Regions from separate parts of the Homo sapiens genome. Here region 1 is linked to region 2. A link means that fine-mapping ties the variant in region 2 to the expression of a gene that starts in the linked region. Tissue or cell type: sun-exposed skin. Region 2 holds a variant in brackets; the other region holds the start of a gene. All regions are shown on one strand. Distances are between the middles of the regions.

Evidence for each region. PIP is the estimated chance that this variant, and not a neighbour inherited with it, causes the effect.
Region 1: UST starts here. The variant in region 2 is fine-mapped to the expression of UST in sun-exposed skin (GTEx, PIP above 0.99). The same link has a PIP of 0.9 or more in unexposed skin.

Annotation. Positions count from the first base shown.
Region 1 is chr6:148,745,888-148,748,570 of GRCh38, reverse strand. UST (uronyl 2-sulfotransferase) reads right to left here and starts at 1,541. Exons shown (of 8, transcript NM_005715.3): 1 at 894-1,541. The coding sequence starts at 1,140. RefSeq lists enhancers at 1-404, 1,713-1,792, 1,853-1,912 and silencers at 583-752, 1,053-1,142.
Region 2 is chr6:148,597,121-148,599,803 of GRCh38, reverse strand. No RefSeq gene overlaps it. Among named protein-coding and RNA genes, the nearest start is that of UST, 150 kb to the left of the region's middle. RefSeq lists an enhancer at 1-4. The variant A/T (reference allele first, on the strand shown) is at 1,380.

The DNA of each region.
Region 1 (2,683 bases), 150 kb before region 2:
CCGCAGCCGAGACGAGGGAGCTGCGGGGTCACGCCTTCTCGCTGGAGCGGCTCTTTCCCTCCCGTCAAACCCCTTCCTTACTTCTGCTAAAGACAGGCGGCCTCTCTCCTAATAAACCACACACACACACACACACACACACACACACACACACACACACACACACACACAAGTTTTGACTTGAGCTTGAGACGCACACAGCGCCGAGGATCCTCGGGTTACTGGGGGCGACACTGCTGGCCAGGCTGACCAGCGCCCTCGGGCATCCCCAAACCCCTGGATGCAACCCGTTCCCCGCGCCAGGCTAGCTGCGGGCGGCGGGGTGGGCAGCGGCAGCCAAGGGACAAGCCAGCCCGGGGACAGCGCGGAGCCACTAGGGCCGGCGGGCAGGCGGGGGATCTGCGGGACAGAATTCTCAGAGCGGACGGTGGCAAAGGGCTAAACCCACCCACACTCCCCGGGGCGCGGGACGGGACTGAACTGCGGTCACTAACAATGCAACGAAGAGGACCTTCCCTTCCCTTCGCCACTCCCCGCGCCGCCAGGCCTGAAGATACACACACTCCGGCACACCCCACACACCCATCCACTCCGCCCCAGTCCGGATCCGGGTGGCGGAGGTGGGGCGGGGGGAAGGTGAGCGGTGCCTCGCCCCGGGGTACCTGCCGGCAGCGCAACCCAGCGGCGCCCCCGCCTCGGTGAGGACAGTCGGACGCGCGGGAGGAAGAAGGCGCTCCCGACCGCGGCACAGATGCTCACGGGCTTAGCACCTGGAGAGACCCGGGGCGGCGGCGGCGCGCGGTGGCAGCGCGAGAAGTCCCCGCCGCGACCCTCTCCCCGCCGCACAACTTTGCGCTGTCGGCGCCGCCCTAGCGCCTGCCCAGCTTCCTTACCCAAGTACTGCCGCAGGTCGAGCAGGAAGCGAGGGGGTCCCCCGCTGAGCTGATAGAGGAGGGAGCCCAGGCAGAAGACCAGCAGGGTGGCCATGCAGAAGCCGTAGTCCCGGAGGGAGAAGCGCAGGAAAGGCAGCAGGGGCACCCGACGCTTCCAGCTGCCCAGGCCCGGAGGGGCGCCCCCCATAGGGGCCCCATGGGGCCAGGGATCCGCGCCGCCGCCGGGATGCTGCTGCTTCTTCTTCATCGCCTGCTCCGCTGCCTCCCACAGCCTGCCCGTGCCAGGAAAAGGTCACCCATCCGCCGCGAGGAGGAGAGCCCGGCTGGCCGGCTGCACATGGGGAGGGCCGCGCGGAGGGCAGCCGGGTGGGGGCGGGGAGGGGCCGAAGTTGCCGGGCTCAGGAGACTTTCTTCGGCATGGTCCCCGCCGCCGCGGCCCGAGCGGCCGAGGTGTCCGGCCCCGGTTCGGGGCGCTGCCCGTGACGGGGCGCCGCGCCCGTCCGGCGCCCGCTAGCGTCCCCACGCCCCGCGCCCCGCCGCGCCTCGGGCTCGCTTGCGGCCGCCGGGGCTCGCCTCCAGCGCCAGCGTGGACCCCCCGGCTTTGTGTCTGTAGGTCTCGGCGTGTTTTGTCCCGGTTCAGGCTTCTCTAAAAAACGGCAGGGAGGAACAGGAGGCGGACACCATCCCCTCGCTCCACCTCCTTGACAGGGGTTTTCCTCCTTCTCCTCCCCTTTCTCCCTCCGGCGCTCCGCAGCACTCTCCTCCCTCTCCCCTCCCTCTCCGCTCGGGTCTCGGGATTTCGCTCGGGTGTCACGTTACTGCTTCTGCTGGGGGCGGAGGGGGGGAGGCGGCGATTATTCGCAACAAGGAAGAAAGTTTCTGGGTGTTTTCTTTTTTTTTCCTTCCCCCGTTCTTTACAATCTGGATGCGGTTCCTGCGCCACCAGCGACCTCTTGGGGGCCCCGCTGACTTCCCTCTTGTAAACAGTCACCGGCAGGAAGAAGCACGACTGACTTTACTATTTACATTTTTTTCAGTTCAGAAAGTTGATTCTCCTTATATACCCCGTGCGAGCTGCTTACCCAAGGCTGATAAAAGGTACTAGAATACAGGCTCAAGACTTTGCTGAAATGGGAAAAGAGCAAGCGGTGCGAGTTATGGTCAAACACGCCCCAGAGGGCCAGGCGCAGCGCCTGAACTCCCGGGTAGGGTAGCCGAAGAGGACGCTCTGTTCTTGCTTTTCCTGGTCCTACAACTGCTCCACCTCGCAGTGCCCAGAGAGGCAAGTGGGGGGTGCATAGCGGACTCTAGGAGGTCATTGCCCTGCAGACATGAAGGGGAAAGAGCCCAGTCCGCCTATACGCTGATTTCATTGCTGCCTCTCTTCCCTCCACGGGAAAGCCTCTGGACCTGAAAGAACCTCCTGGGGCAGAAAAGGCTCAATCCTAGACATAGATCCTCTGATGGGGTGGTTGATCCACGGAAGGGCTGCTCTGATCAGCCACACTTTAAGTAAGAATACTATATCACTATTTATAGAAGCTGTAGCACCTGAGGGCTGTGTGACTCACCCGAGGTCCCAAAGCTAGTAGTAGGAGTTGGGTTGGGAGTTGCACTCAAATCTATTTGACCCTCAGACCCACTATACTAACCACTGCACAGCAGTACTTCCCAGCCAGAGCCCTTTTCCTTCACGTCCCATAGGAGGATGAGATTTAATTCATTTAGTTCAGGCCACATTGAGAAATGGAAACCTCAGTTTCTGGTGCCTATCATTTCTGGCTCCCTAC
Region 2 (2,683 bases):
ACATCATCTAACTTAGTAAATGTTTCTTGAGCAGTTGTATTGTAATTGCATTATGCCAGGCATTGAAGACACAAAAATAAGCAATAAATTCAGAAAAAGGACAACTACTTCCCAAAACATCTCCTTACATCATTGAATTTGATTTGTTTACTTATAACTGAGACAAAGACTAGCTTTGAGACTTCAGACAAATCCAGACCCCTCACTGTACCTCTGTCCTGTTCTCAAAAAACAATATTGGACTACGTGTTTTCTAAATTTCCTGTTTGACTCCTGGATTCTGAGAAAGTTTTGAAATAACTCAACAACTGGTTTTTGGCAATAAAATTGCTAAAATAATTTAAAATTTTTTACTTTAAACAATTTTAAAAATGTTAATAGCTTATTTAAAATTTTGGTAGAATTAGATAAGAATAATACGGAATTAAACTAAGCATAGCTGAATACTCTGAGAGGTATTTACAAATCAATACTGGAGCCTTATCTGAAATCCTACCAATTTATTTTTCATTGTAGGATGTAGTTTCAAGGTCCAAAAATGTATCTCTGGAGAATATTACATTTTGGAGCCTGCTAAAAGTTTTTCTATAAATATTCCACCAAATGAAAGAAAACAAGCCATCAGCAATCACTCTGACAGATTTATCCAGCGGCTCAGAATGCTGGACTCTAGTCCCAACCCTTGACAAGTTATGAAGGCAGCAGAGTCATCATTCAAATGGATTTAAGTGCCCATTGTGTGTAAAGACCTTCCTTACCTCTCAAGGCCAACAAGCTAAGATGGATAACTGGAGTCTTTTAGCCTTAAAGGGTGTTTGGCATAGCAAAATACAAACATAGAAAAGATAGCTTCACTCCAACTCCTGGCTGAGCTTATCCCAACAGTGTTAGTGAGGCTTTGGAGAACTAGAAGTAATCTGCAGGCTTAAATTCGTTTTTCAGTCTCTTCCCACTTACTATTCGTGTGACCATGGGAAGGCTTACTTAACCCCTTTGAGTCTCATGGAGTTGTTGAAAGAACGAAATGACATAGATTATATGACATGCTTAGCACAGTGCCTGGGATATAAAATGTGTTCCAAAAGTGTTAGCTGAAATTATTAATATTAAGTAAGAGCCAATATGAGAGAGAGCAATAATATTAAAGGTGGGAGTTTAGTTCACTGTGTATTTATTGTAGGGAATCAGAATATGCCACCCCAAAATATGCCATTGGCATAAGGATTATTTTGAGCTGAAGACACTTGAAAAACAGCAGATGCAGGAAGAGCTTTCTGACCTTCCCCTTTCTATCTAAAAGTAGGACATAAAATTTCCCATGAGAAAGGTGCCCTTCCTGTACCAGGAAGAGCAGAATAACTCTTAGTAATCAGATTCTT[A/T]TCAGCCCAGAGATGAAATCTACATAACAAACCTTAGGAAAACAACTTGTCTTTCCCCTTATATTTACCTTCCCACCCCTGAAAGCCTAAGCCCCTTTTCCTTGTCACTTCTCTACAACTTTATCATTCTTTGTTAACATGCTCTATAAGCTCCAAGTTCTAATCGCCCCTTTGAGAGACCAATCACCAGATTTCTCTTGAATGTATTCATGCTGCATGTGTGAATAAACTGTGTTTTTCTCTTATTCATCTGTCTTTTTTCAGTTTAATTTCCAGTATCCCAGCCATAGAAGCTAAGTGAGGAAAGGAAGAGTTTTTTTAATCTCCCCTACATATGTGTGTATGTGATAACTCTGTCTATTACTAGATGAGGGTTAGTGGGCATGGGAGTGTAATTAAGTACTCTATTTTTACTTTTTTTTTTCCTTTTCTTTCTGTGGCCCTTTGTATTAACTTTTTACTAATGAAATAGTAACCTTTACTCTCCTTCTTTCCACTAGGCACTTCCTTGCATTGCTGGTTTATCTAATTATGTTTGCTTAGAAGTTCTGGAGACTGAATCTTCAGACAATCCAGGTGCCTATGGAATTCTCCTTGACTAGGAGATTACTTTAAGGCTGCAGCTAATTTACAACCCTGTCAAACCCAAGATGGTGCCAGCCCATTCACCAGATGAGACAATAACTCAGGATAAGTCATTGGAACAAGTCACATAGTCCTGCACTGCATGCCCTCCATACCAAATTTCTCTTTCTTAAACCTTAGCATTTTGCCTGGGAATTTCCAAGTAGTTTTGTTAAGGCGTGTTAAAGCAAACTAAATAGGGCCTGAGAAGGACTCCATACTTGTATATTTGAGTCCTTGTGGATGAACTGTCACCTAGCTTAATAAGCAGACAAGACTGAAAACCTAATTTAGGAGTATGTGCCTGTAACAATAGCTGAGTCTTGGCCCATCCCAACAGCCATACTTCAATCACTCGTAGACTGCTAAGTGTTCAAATTGTGTTCAAATAAGGCAAACATCAACCTGTAACCAATCCAGCTGTTCTATACATCACTTCCGATTTTTATACATCACTTCCCTTTCTTTGTCTCTAAATTTGTTCCTACCATGAGGCATCCCTGGAGTCTCTCTAAACCTGCTGTGATTCTGGGGGCTGCCTGACTCATGAATTGTTCATTGCTCAATTAAACTCCTTTAAATTTAATTCAGCTGAAGTTTTTCTTTTAACAGACAGGAGACTGAACCATTTCCACACTGCTGGCTTCAGAAAATAAAGTCGCTTTCCTTCCACAGCACCC